Linked DNA regions of Homo sapiens. The protein of the gene in region 2 purifies or fractionates together with the protein of the main gene of each other region. This does not show direct contact. Each region holds a gene or a part of one and is shown on either strand. Other genes may lie near its edges.

Region 1 (7,026 bases), on a different chromosome or scaffold from region 2:
TTTCTCTGAGTATTGTTGAGAACATGATTTTAAGGTTTGGGGTCTTTTTATACATGAGGCCAGATTTGGAAGTAAAGGTGTAGACAAAGAGGCAGCCAGACCTATAGGAAATCCAGATCCCCGTTCTACTGGACAAAATACAATTAGCTCTAAACTTCCCCTGCCTTGTGTAACATTTCAAACCTCAAGAAAGATCTCTTTAGACTGAAGAGAGTGCAGAGAACAGAAATTTCAAGGGAGGAGGCGGGTTGAGGATCGCTACAAGTAGCAATAGAGAAAAATGAAAGAAGATTTGTATAGACCAGAAAGAAAAAAAATGAAGAAAAAGAATTAGACAGAACCTATAAAAATCACAAAAGATAAGTAACGGAGATGGCTTTGCTAGCCAAGTCTAGAAACATTATTAATTCAGTAAGCCATCCAAGTGTTTATTGAGCACCCACTATAATTGGGGAACTGTGCTGACCGCTCAGGGCTATCATGAATATGAAAATGTATAGAGGGTTTGGGCTTTTCCCTAAGGAGCTTTTATGCTCACTGGCAAAAGAAAAGAGATAACCATTACATGGCATCCTTTAAACTTTCTCTTTTTAAATGGAGATGTGTTTGTGAGGTTTTTATGAATTTTCAGGGGGAACAATAGGAGAAAGCAAGTCACTTAAGGGAGTCTACAGGAATGTACCTGACCTCTAATGATATTGTAAAGACAACTAGTCTCACTGCAGAGGATCCACTGCAAAAACAAACTCCTTGACAGGAGATTTCTTCCCCGAACTTTTATCCCCTCTTGTGGGTTACCTGAATTCCCCTCCCCCTCTTGCAGGCAGATGTGGGCCCAGTAACTCACTGGTGGCTGCGGAGCTGACGTCAGCTGGTTTCCTGCAAGATGGTGCTTAGTTAGCTCTGTTAGATTCTGGTTTTTTGACTGGATACTCAGCAGAGGCAACATCTGTGATTGGCATGTAGTAGCTACTCATTTAAAGTGTGCAAAGACTAGAGCTGGGGGCTTGGGCAGAAATGCCCTTCTAAGCCAAACGCAGGAGACCAGGTGTTGGCTGCATGGAATTGTTCATTTCTCCCTGGCACCTTTTTTTTTTTTGAGACCGAGTTTCGCTCTTGTTGCCCAGGCTGGAGTGCAATGGCGTGATCTTGGCTCACTGCAACCTCTGCCTCCCGGGTTCAAGTGATTCTCCTGCCTCAGCCTCCCAAGTAGCTGAGATTACAGGCATGCACCACCATGCCCGGCTAATTTTTTTGTATTTTTAGTAGAGACGGGGTTTCTCCATGTTGGTCAGGCTGGTCTCGAACTCCCGACCTCAGGTCATCCGCCTGCCTCGGCCTCCCAAAGTGCTGGGATTACAGGTGTGAGCCACCTTTCCCAGCCCTCTCCCTGGCATCTTAATGTGCATAATAGTGAACACTTGCAAAGGGGCTTTACTGTTATCGTGCTACTATCTTGGAAAGGAAGTGGAAAAAGATGCTGCCTAGTTCCACGATTGGTGTGTGGATCCTCCTAGAAGTCACTGCAGACCTGTTAAGTGTAAAGAGATGCACTAAAATTGAAAAAAAAAAAAGTTGGGGGAAGGGGGCTGGAATATGGGATGAGTCCTCATTCCCAGGAAAAGGCCTGCATCCCTTCCTGTGGACTGAGCCAGATGTTCCCAGGGGGCCTTGCCTCCTCCCTTCCTGGGTGGCTTTTTTCTCAGTGAGGGGTACCCAGAGGAAACTCTCTTGCTCCCTGATGGGATGGTCACATGCTGGGCCAAATAGAAGCCTGGTCATCTGGTTTAGGCTAGGGCTGGAGAGAAGGGCTATAGTATACTTCCAGCTTTTGCCAAATTCCTTGTGCCCTGGATATGTACAGCCCTACTCCTGACAGCCTCTTTTCTCAGAGTTTCTCTCCCTCCCTCATCCATTCTAGCCGGTGGAGAGAAGACCCTGGAACCAAGGGCCTGTAAGGTGAGGGCAAATATTTTGCTGCTATTTGATTGGCTCATTTCCCAGTCAAAGTTCTAGCTGATGGAGAAACACTAATCAGCCACCTTTACCTTTCATCCAGGTGACAAATAATGAAGTGATAATGAACAAACAACTCAATTCACATCCCTTTCAGCCCTATCCTATCCTAATGAACAAACAACTCAATTCACATCCCTCTCAGCCCTACCCTATCCTCAACTTTCCATCACATGGAAGAGAGTAGAGCTTCTATTCAGAGATCAGAATGAATGAGTCAACTCAGAATATGCATTGGCAGAAGTTTCCATTACAACTTCCTCCTCCTTCATTTTTGCAATTCTAACCCCTTCCTCTGACATCATGTTTAAAAGCTCAGTGGATGTTATGACCTCACCCACAACTAGATTCCCAAATGAAGTTTTTGAAAACAACTACAGTACTTCCAGGTACAATCGTCTGGATTTCTAGGGTGCCTCGATATCTTAATATACCAAGAGAAGCACTCTAACATAGTGACAAAGAGCATGAACTCTGTAGCCAGATGTGAGTTTGAATCCCAGCGCCATCACTTATCAGCTGCATGGCCTTGGGCAAGCTACTTAAATTCTCTGTGCCTCAGTTTCCTCATATGTAAAAGACAGATAATAACAGCACCACCTTCATGAAGTCAGTGTTTGGATTAAACAAGGCAGTATATAGGAAACAATTAGAATGGCGCTGGTACATGGTCAACACTCTGTAAGTGTTTGCTATTATTACTAATAGTGGTGAGGGTTCTCAGAAACATAGAACTTGTGCAAAGATGCAAACAGAAAAAGCGTAAGAGCTCTCAAAAACAAATGAACTTTCAGGCACTGCGAAGGAGACTTGCAATGCCACAACAGCAGATGCTCAAAATGACTGGTCTATGTGAATAATCTCTTCCCTCAACCCCGGAGTTTTGCAATTAACCTTTACTTTTAAAAGCTGAAGACCTGAAAGTTTCTGGGACCTGAGTTTTGCAAATCACCTCCTTGGTGACTCAGTCCCTCCCCACCCACCTGAGATCTGTCTGCCCACACTTGCACTTCGCAGGGACACTTACCTCAGGAGGACACACCCAGGCAGCCAGTGCAACTCAAACTCGGGGAGATCTGGCTCTGTGAGTTTCCATCGTTCCCCACCCCCACAAGACCCACCCCCTCATTCTGTGTTTGTCTCCCTGTCTCTCAGGTCTAGCTGGGCAGACAATCTTTGGGAAGACAAAACCTGCCCCAGTTATGGGTAATTTCTGACATCACAAGCTCTGTGGAGAGGAGACACCGTTTGCCATTGCCAAAGTGGCTCCCCGTCGGATGTCAGGATTCCCTACGGATTTGCCCCCGAAGAAGCTATGGTAGTATCTGGTCAGATGACAGCTTGATAATTGCCCAAAGAGACCGACAGAGAAGGCAAGAATCTCCCGCATCTCCCATATAGTACTTCTACTTCTCTCCTCTGCCACCACCTTCCAGAAGCAGACATGGGGGTTGGAGGAGTGTGGGCCTCTCACCCAAGGATCTCAACCTCGTATCAGTATCTCCAAAATAACTAGAACCCCAAGGTGGCTGCTGCTGGGGAGTGTTTTTGTTTTGAGGCTTAAATTTGGGGTTGGTGTCCTCATCTCACTGGCTCCCACTCCCTTCTCAGCCCAACTATCTAGTAACCCTGTCTTTAGCCAGATGTCCCCAGCGGTCACAGCAGGCAGCCACCAAAGCCGCAAACAAACAGATGGGTGAGCTCACTGTTTGGGGTAGACCAAACATGAGGCCTGTGGTGGGCAGTCAGCCAGCCAAGTCAGCCCTGTCCTGAGCAACACAGCCATCACCATGGTTCTCACTTACACATAAATGTATTTGCACCTTAGCCCATACTGACAGCATGCTTCCATATATATAGATATCATGACTTTTATATTCTAGACATTCATTGCAGTTCAACAGTTATGGGTCAATATTACTGGGATCTGGGCCCACAAAAATGAATGTGACATGATCCCTGTTATCAGGGGACTCCCCCAGTGCTGCAGAAGACAGGAGAAGATACATTGGAATTTGTTTTGTTGTGGTTATTTTCCCCTTTAAGGGGCATGAAAGTCTTTAGCATTCTTTGGCATCACCAATTCCCACCACACACATAGATCCTTCAGGCATGTACTTATAGGCATACCTGCAATGTGCATATGTCCACATCCAGCAAACAAGAATCAAACATGTGGCTTATCTTGGTACGTCACCCAGTGGGGCAATTGAGCAATGGAGAGGGGAGGAATATGAAATACTTACCTCCAAAGTACACATGTCCTGAATCAAACATTAATTTAATTGACACCATCCTAGTTAAGGAGTTGTAAAGATGTGAATTTCTTTATGCAAAAAGCATTTTTAAAAAGTGTTTGACTTTCAATTACATTAAGTCATGTATTTATTTGTGGAAAAATATATAAACATTTAGTCAAAATATGCACTAGACATCAATTGGTAGAGTGTTTGCATATTTGAGATCCTGACTCTCCCAGAAAATCTGGAACGCACAATGACTGTATCCATGCCTGGCCAGACTCCAGAACCACAAACTTTAGAAAGCACCCCTTCCGGTTTACTCTGGCAAGTTGGGCTTGCCTCGCAAACCCAGTTGGGCAGCTGTGGGGGGTACACTTAAAAAAAATTCAACCTGCTAAGTGAGTGAAAAGTGGGATTCAAATTTAAGGTAGAAGGTATCAACCTACCCTGCCATTCTAAAGAACGCCTACAACCTTCCCATTAAAGCAGGGACACAAAGGAAATTGAGTCATCGGTTTCTTGCTGTGCAAACCCCAGAATTTCTCTCTGAGGCAGAAAAAGATCCCCTTTGAAAACTACACGGTGCCTGGTAGCATCTGCCACCTGCTTCAGCTCATTCTTTCGCAAGAACCACTTCCCTTTCAGGCTCTTCGGTGGAGTGACCTAAAGCGAAGGTGCCGGGGAAGCACAATTGCAGTTACTCTCTTATCCCCAGCCCCAGCCCCAGCCAGGAGGCAGTGCTGAGGAGGCCCAGGTGATCTCCAACCACCTCCTCTCCATCAGGGGACCCCAGCCTTGAAGCATCTGACACTGCAGGTGGATCCGAAACCTCACTTGGGTGGCCACATGTCACCTAGAGCCACACACTGGGTTTCAGTTCAAGACCCATGTCAGCCTCCTACCCAGGGTCGCACAACCTACTAATGAGCATGTGAGGAGTGGGTCTCTGGGTCTGTGCATGTGAAATGCTTGCCTGGTCAGAGTGAGAGCTCCTGTAATGCTGCTTTCCTAATATTCAGGCAGAGGGCATTGCCCTAACTTGTCCTGTAGACAAGCAACCACCTCTCTCTTTATTCCAAGCCTGTAAATCAGAGCATATCTGGGAGGGCAGCTGGACTCTGATAAGGGATGTGATTTATTTTAGTTACAAATAACTTGGTTGGCATCTCTGATATCTGTGGCCAAACCTGGGGAGAGACAGGCCAGGGCAGGGCAGCCAAGAGTCCACAGCCTGCCGGGGATGGAGAGAGAAGCCACCCATGCAAGAGTTCACTTATGCTGGCCACAGGGGACAGGTAGTGTGGGAGAGCCACGTATAGCTTCCAAAGTCCTCCAGACACGTAATGAATTGAAGGAGCATAAGCATTGGAGTCTAACATGGGAGGATGTTAGATAATGCGGAAATCCCAACTCCACCACTGGATCCTGGGGCAAGTCATGCCATCTCCACAAGTCTCGATCTCTTTATCTAGAAAATGGAGTTAAAGAGAGTGCTAGGTGTATTGGGCTGTTGGGAGGCTTAGATAAGATATCCTGTGCTACCCCCGGCTTCACATCTAGTATAGAGTCAGTGCTCACTGAGCAGTATTTCCTAGAGACTCAGGACTTAGGACCCTGCTTTACACAGGACCATATGGTACCACAGCAGAGCATCAGGTTTTTAAAACTTTGGTGCTCCTGACCATCTAGCGATGTTCCAGGAGGTGCTAGAAGCCCCAGGACAATACAGAGAATCATTGTCGAACACCAACATTGCTATATGGTCAAAAATATATATCATTATTATTGTATTAAACTCAAATTGGGTATATTGTAGAGTAATATATAAAACTGTAATGAGTCTGTAAGGTAGTATTTAAGGTGTGAAACAAATGTTGTTACCCCAGTAGACCACACCCTCCCCACCCACTGCAGGGGGTGGGGTTGAGGCTCCCACAGTCCTCATGATAGAGATACATGAGAGAAATGCCCTGCCCTAATATCTTAACAAGTCGCAGAGAGGGGAAGTCACTAGTCCCTCTCTTTCAGATTTTCTAAATGATCCTTAGAGTTCCCATCTCTGAGTCTATGACAATGAGTCAGGAAATAGTTCCTGAATGAATGGAAGGGAATCTGTCATGAACTAAGAATTTCATGCTGTCCAGCATCCCCTCCTTTGTGGGGAAATTTGGGAAAAAACAAATGGAACATTTTCCTACTGGCTGCCAGCCTCCCACACAAGGACTTGTCACCATGCCTTTGCAGCAAGTAGATGTCCAATGTGTAAATGGGGAATACCTGAATTAGTTGATGCTAGCCCCAACAGAGATGAAGCTTTGCCTCTTTGCTCCTTCACATGGGAAAACACAGCTAAAGTTCTAACTCCCAGCAGGGGGCGGAGTCTCTAATGCTCAATTAGAGAGAAGGGAGCAGAAAGGTGTGTGCCAGCCCTAAGACCCAGGGCTCTCAGACGCTCTCCTCTTTCTCAACACCAGGCATGCAATTCCCAAGCAAAGATCCCCTCACCCAGTCTATCATTGTTGGACATTTGGGTTGGTTCCAAGTCTTTGCTATTGTGAATAATGCCACAATAAACATACATGTGCATGTGTCTTTATAGCAGCATGATTTGTAGTCCTTTGGGTATATACCCAGTAATGGGATGGCTGGGTCAAATGGTATTTCTAGTTCTAGATCCCTGAGGAATCGCCACACTGACTTCCACAATGGTTGAACCCTAAAACTTAAAGTATAATAATAATTAAAAAAAAAGATCCCCTCACCCACA
Region 2 (7,332 bases):
GGTTTCACTGCGTTGGCCAGGATGGTCTCCAACTCCTGACCTCGTGATCCGCCCGCCTCAGCCTCCCAAGGTGCTGGGATTACAGGCATGAGCCACCACACCTGGCCTCATTTTATTTGTTTTTTAATCTGTATTTTAAAATGACAGTCTTGGCTGGTCACAGTGGCTCACGCCTGTAATCCCAGCACTTTGGGAGGCCGAGGCGGGTGGATCACGAGGTCAGGAGATTGAGACCATCCTGGCTAACACAGTGAAACCCTGTCTCTACTAAAAATACAAAAAATTAGCTGGGCATGGTGGCGAGTGCCTGTAGTCCCAGCTACTCAGGAGGCTGAGGCAGGAGACTGGCATGAGCCCAGGAGGCGGAGCTTGCAGTCAGCCCAGATCGTGCCACTGCACTCCAGCCTGGGCAACAGAGCGAGACTCCATCTCAAAAAAAAAAAAAAAAAAAATGACAGTCTTATATGCAGGAAATCCTAAGGAATTCACCTAATAAACAAGTTCTGCAATACAATATCAACAATATGCAAAAATCAACTGCATTTCTCTATAGTAGAAGTGAATAATTCAAAAAGGAAACTAAGAAAACAATTTGTTTACAATAGCATTATAAAGAATAAAATATTTAAGAGTAAAAGAAGTGCAAAATGTATACTCTGAAAATGAGAAAGCAATTGAAGCTGCCTAAATAAATGAAAAGTTATCCCATGTTCATGGATTGGAAGGTTTAATACTGTTAACATGACAAAAACCACACAAACTGATTCACAGATTCAAGGCAATCGTTATCAAAATCTCAGCTGGCTTTCTTAAAGAAATTGACAAGTTGATCCTAAAATTCACATGAAAATGTAAGGGATCCAGAATAGCCAAGACACTCTTGAAAAAAAAAAAAGTTGTAAGACTCACACTTCCTTGTTTTAAAAGTTACTAAAAAACTACAGTAATGAAGACACTGTGATTATTGTCAAAGGATAGACAAATCAATCAATAGAATAGAATTTAAAATCCAGGAATAAACCCTTAAATTTTGGTCATTTGATTTTTGACAATTGTGCAAACAATTAAATGGGAGAAAAATAGTCTTTTCAACAAATGATGGTGGGATAACTGAATATCCACATGCAAAGAAATCAATTTGGACCACTTACATTAGACACAAAAATTAACCCAAAATGGATCATAAGCTAAAAAGTAAGAGTTTAAACTATAAAACTTCTAGAAGGAAATATAGGTGTAAATCTTCATGATCTTAGATTACACAAAGCCCTCTTAGACATGACACTAAAAACATATATAACATATAGTCTGGCACACAGTAAAACAAACAAAAACCATACGTGACAACAACAAAATAAATTAGACCTCGTGAAAATTAAAAATTTTTATGCTGCAAATAATACCATCAAAAATATGAAAAGATTAAAAAAATGAAAAGATAATGCACAGAGTGGGAGAAAATATTTGCAAATAATCTAATAAGAGATGTATTTCCAGAATATATAAAGAGCTCTGGCCAGGCATGGTGGCTCACACCTATAATCTTAGCACTTTGGGAAGTCAAGGTGGGAAGATCACTTGAGCCCAGGAGTTGAAGATCAGCCTTGACATTATAGGAAGACCTAGTCTCTACAAAAACGAGAAAAACAAATTAGCTGGGTGTGGTGGCATATGCCTATGGGCCTAGCTACTCAGTAGGCTGAAGTGGAAGGATCGCTTGAGCCCAGGAGTTGGAGAGCTGTGATCATGCCATGCACTCCAGTCTGTGCAACAGAGCAAGATCTTGTCTTGAAGAAAAAAAAAAGAAAAGAGAGAACTCTTACAACTCAATGAAAAAAGACAACCCAATTTAAAAATGATTAAAGGATCTGAATAGATAGTTCTCCAAGAAGATATATAAATGGCCAATAAAAACACGAAAACATACCCAACATCATTAGTCATTAGGGAGATGTACATCAAAACTGTAATGAGATACCACTTCACAACCACTAGGATGGTTATGATAAAGAAGATGGGAAAAAAACCAAGTATTGGCAAGGACATTAAAAAAAACTGAAACCTTCACTGGGTATGGTGGCTTACACCTGTAATCTCAGCACTTTGGGAGGCTGAGGCAGGCAGATGGCTTCAGTCCAGGAGATTGAGACCAGCCTGGACAACATGGCAAAACCCCGGCGCTACAAAAAACACAAAATTTAGCAGGGTGTGGTGGCACATGCCTGTAGTCCCAGCTACTAGCGATGTTCAGAATAGAAAAACTCATAGCAACAGAAAATATATTATTGGTTGCCAGAGGTTGAGGAGAGTGGGGAGTAACTGCTAATGGATATGCAGTTACTTTCAGGGTGCTGAAAATACTCTGGATTTAGGTAGAGGTGATGGTTGCAAAACTTTGTGAAGATACTTAAAACTATCAAATTTTACACTTTAAATGAGTAAGTTGTATGGCATGTGAATTATCTTTTTTTAAAAAAATGAGACGGGATCTCACTGTGCATTGTGTTGCCCAGGGACGGAGTCTCGCTGGAGTGCAGTGGTGCAGTCTCAGAGGCTCACAGCAACCTCTGCCTCCTGGGTTTAAGCGATTCTCGTGCCTCAGCCTCCGGAGTAGCTGGGATTACAGGTGCCCGTATATTTTATAATATATTCCATAATTAATCGCTCCGTATTAAACTTGCTGATGCAGGTCTCCAATTACTGAAAAACCTGATACCAAGTTTTTCAATGGGATTTTTTTGTTTGTTTAAGAGATGGGGTCTCACCATGTTGCTCAGGCTGGCCTTGAACTCCTGGGCTCAAGTGATCCTCCAGCCTCAGCCTCTCAAAGGCTGGGACTACAGGCATGTAGCACTTTGCCTGACTCAAGGGGAATTTTTAGTAAGAGTATATAATCCAAGTCTGTAGCAGTTGGAGGATGTCGTACCACGCTGAAGTGTCACACATAACTGATGACTCAGTCCCCCAAGCCTATTTTATCATCGTAAAGAAAGCTATTTCTTTGATTATTCCAACTCTTTCAGCACCAGGACTGCTGCAGGGGCTGGATTCATGCTACCTGTAGTTGCAGTGTAAATTATGTGTCAGAGCCAAGATCCTAGGAAAGTCAAAGACTAGGTTACAAGAGCGATTCTTTTTTTTTTTTTTTTTTTTTTTTTTTGAGACAGAGTCTTGCTCTGTCGCCCAGGCTGGAGTGCAGTGGCACAGTCTTGGCTCACTGCAACCTCCGCCTCCCTGGTTCACGCCATTCTCCTGCCTTAGCCTCCCGAGTAGCTGGGACTACAGGCGCCCGCCACCACGCCCGGCTAATTTTTTGTGTTTTTAGTAGAGACGGGGTTTCACCGTGTTAGCCAGGATGGTCTCGATCTCCTGACCTTGTGATCCGCCCGCCTCGGCCTCCCAAAGTGCTGGGATTACAGGCTTGAGCCACCGCGCCCGGCCAAGGACGATTCTTTCTAATCTTTGGTAAGCCAGTTTTTACAGAATGAAATGCTCTTGGATTGACTGACTTGATTGGGTAAGTATTCATTGGGCTCTTGTTCCATGCAAGGGCAGTCTACAAGGGCCTAGATATGGGGGCCCCCAAAGAAGAAAAATCGGTTTTTCATCATATTTTCTGGTTGAGTTTCTTCCTTTATTATATTTGTTACATATGTTATTAAATTATTTCCATAAAAGAGGTTATGCTGAGCAGGTAACCAAATTCTTGTTCCCCCAAAAGACATGTATAATTCAGACGATTTATGCAATTAGAAGAAGGGAGACTTCATCAGTTAATAAAGTCTAGAACGTGAGGAAGCCCAGTCATTTCCAGGACCTTCAGATGCCCAAGCTGGATCCAGGTTTTCCACCCCGACAGCTCCAGGGAGCACGCTGGAGAGACAGACTTCACCAGCGGGAAGGCGCGGCACCCTACGCGCAAGGAACCTCAAGTCCCAGAATCCTATGAGGACTCCAAATCCCAGAAACCTGCACGCAAATCTATCCCGGGTGCCAAGTCGGCCGACCGCAGACGTGACCAAGTTGCGAGGCTAGGGTGAGGTGTCGTAGAATTTGTCCCTACCATTGTCCCTGCAGGGAAGAGACTTTAGTGATCTAGAGCTGGTCATTGTCTCTTTCACAGCTCGCGTGAAAGCACCCCTCTCGGCGTGTTTGATGCCATGATCAGCGTCTCCCATTCCCTCTGTCCCCTTTCTCTGCCCCCGTAAGGATGGTTCAGCCCGGTATTGAGGCTCCTTGAGCTGGCTGGATGGTTGCGCCCGCCCTACCCCGGAATGTGGGCCTTTGGAGCGAGCGAAGTGGGAGGGACCGACGCAGGAGGTGTCTTGGGCCCGGGCGGCTGTAGAGGCGGCGGCGCCTACGGGCAGTGGGAGGAGCCGCGCGGTTCCGGCTGCTCCGGCGAGGCGACCCTTGGGTCGGCGCTGCGGGCGAGGTGGGCAGGTAGGTGGGCGGACGGCCGCGGTTCTCCGGCAAGCGCAGGCGGCGGAGTCCCCCACGGCGCCCGAAGCGCCCCCCCGCACCCCCGGCCTCCAGCGTTGAGGCGGGGGAGTGAGGAGATGCCGACCCAGAGGGACAGCAGCACCATGTCCCACACGGTCGCAGGCGGCGGCAGCGGGGACCATTCCCACCAGGTCCGGGTGAAAGCCTACTACCGCGGGTGAGTGTCCTGGGACAGGGCGGTGGGCGGGAGGGGACAGGCCGGCTCCACTCGGCCTGGAGGAGGGGAGGGTGAGGGGCTGGAGGTGTTGTGGGCGGATTGGGCTGGGCGGGCGGGCGGCTCCGGTGACTCAGGGTGAGTGACGAAGTGATAGGGGTGGGGGCGAAGCAAGGGGATGCAGTACTGGGGGCGCCCCCAGGTATGGCGGTGCGGGGAGCCGAGGGGCCAGAGTAGGGTCCGAGAAGGAAGCTAGGGTTAGAGTAGGTGCACCTGGTGTGGACGAGAGACTCGCCTCCTGAGAGCTTTGTAGGGGCCTTGCATCCTTAAGTCTGGGTGTATTTGGGGTTGCGAGTTGAGGATTCCAAGTGATGCCTTAGTTAACTCAGTTTGCTGTGGGGATAGAAAACGGGACTTCTTCAGTTAGCTGTCCGTTTTGATTACCAGCAGGCCTAACGCCTCTGGTTCTCTGAGATATACCTCCATCCCCGTTGTGTTCACGTAGTGTATCTGCACTGCCAGTATATTAGACATAGGGGTTGTATTTAAGAATCAAGTCGATGCGTTTTCAGGGACGTGCAGTGGGTACTTACGTGTCGTCAAGATTAAGTTGCATGTGTGTAAATCAAAATTTTGTGAGCCTTTCTTTCTCAGTGTTGTTTCAACGACTACCCGATAGGGTGAGATACTGCAAGGTGAGGAGACTAGCCTAGTTACAGTTTTAAATTCTCTGATCTTCACTCCCTTACTATGGTTACAAGAAAAAACCCAGTTCTAAGTTCATTGTGTTAAATCATTTTCTATCAGTGACGCAAAGTGCCCCCCTTCCTTTAAATTCAGTTGTGGTTTGAATTTTTTTTTGAGATAATTATGTTTAGGAGCATTAGAAACGTGAAATGTTAGTGTGACCATAAAGGTTGGAGACTGAGAAGTCACAGAAAACCCAGCTACTTTGGCTTGCCTTACTGCTTGTCCAGGTAGAAGTAAATTGCTTTAAAAAACTCAAGCAGTGCTAGGTTGAAATTTTAATGCATACTTTTACATTCCTGAGAGGATCAGTGAAGATAGCAAACTCTCAAACTACCTCTCTTGTTTTGATTTCAAAGAAAATCTGAGCCCCTAAATGTTGTATTGATTTGATGTAAGGACTTTTTTTTTTATTATTATACTTTAAGTTTTAGGGTACATGTGCACAATGTGCAGGTTAGTTACATGTGTATACATGTGCCATACTGGTGTGCTGCACCCATTAACTCGTCATTTACATTAGGTATATCTCCTAATGGTATCCCTCCCCCCTCCCCCCACCCCACAACAGTCCCCAGGGTGTGATGTTCCCCTTCCTGTGTCCATGTGTTCTCATTGTTCAATTCCCATCTGTGAGTGAGAACATGCGGTGTTTGGTTTTTTGTCCTTGATGTAAGGACTTTTAAATTTGCTGCCATGAAGCCTCTGGCCTCTGTTTATTATTAGCTTGACTGTATGCAGGAGTAGTTTATTGGAGTTATATTGGACAGTATGATAACTTTGTGTTTAAGCAGGTAAAACTGATTAAGGAGGTTTTTATTTTAAATCAGTACCAAGAAACGTGTGGATATTTTTTAAAGTTTGTAGTTGTCACAAGAGCTGTTTTGACTTGAGGATGGTCAGCCATGAACTTTGCAAGGTGAGAAAAAAGCTTCCTTTGCTTTTTTTTTTTTAAACCCTTACCTGTAATTTGATGAATGAGATGTTTCACTTTATTCTTTTATTTTATTTTTGTTTGTTTGTTTTTGAGACAGGGTCTTACTCTGTTACCCATGCTGGAGTGCAGTGGCACAATCTCGGCTCACTGCATTCTCCGCCTCCCGGGTTCAAGCAATTCGCCTGCCTCAGCCTTCTGAGTAGCTGGGATTACAGGCATGTGCCACCACACCCGGCTAATTTTTGTATTTTTAGTAGAGACGGGGTTTCACCATATTGGCCAGGCATGTCTTGAACTCCTGGCCTCAAATGATGCGCTCGTCTTGGCTTCCCAAATTGCTGGGATTACAGGCATGAGCCACTGCGCCTGGCCCTAAGGCTTTCAATAAATTCTTATTAATTGAGATCATCTTCTCCAATGAGTCTATGAAAGGTAAGAAATTAGTGCTTCTATTTTCCCATTTGTATTAGTTTGACACATGTAAATAGGCCCAGTTAGTAAATGAAAATCATTGTAAACTCCTTTGAGAAGAAATCAAAGTCTTGCTGTACTTCATGAATTTAGATAGCAAATTATCTTGGCTTATTGCTCCAGTTATTAAAAAGAAGAGAATAAGGACATACAGCTTCTTTAGTGTTTGACTGCAATTTTTCCAAGACATTCAAGGTAACATTGTCTTTTAAAATCTGTGAAATTTTGCTGCGGCGCAAATAACCTCTTGCCCATTGTATACTGGTCTTTGCTCAATGAAAGCTTTCTAATGGTACCTTCATTTCAAGCCTCATTTAAAGACAATATCAGCACTCTAAATTGTACCAAATTCCTGTCCTCTGAAATTAGATGTTAAGATTATGTGTTTGTATAGTCTAAACTGATGATTGTGGTATTACATAGTCAGCTGCTCATTAATATAGATGAAGCTAAAATGAGTCACGGACAAGGATAGTTAATAAACAGGTTGGCTAACTAGAACACCTACCTGATTTTAAAATAG

What was found. The genes of interacting proteins can lie anywhere in the genome.
Region 1: the proteins of PRKCI (region 2) and CD44 purify together in Homo sapiens (affinity purification with mass spectrometry; 3 studies listed by BioGRID and IntAct, with this or other methods). This does not show direct contact.

What each region holds. Positions count from the first base shown.
Region 1 is NC_000011.10:35,142,165-35,149,190, reverse strand, and holds part of CD44 (CD44 antigen isoform 1 precursor), read right to left. Parts: intron 1-7,026. UniProt on the Homo sapiens protein: Cell-surface receptor that plays a role in cell-cell interactions, cell adhesion and migration, helping them to sense and respond to changes in the tissue microenvironment.
Region 2 is NC_000003.12:170,218,114-170,225,445, forward strand, and holds the start of PRKCI (protein kinase C iota type), read left to right. Parts: upstream 1-4,310; 5' UTR 4,311-4,556; coding exon 4,557-4,657; intron 4,658-7,332.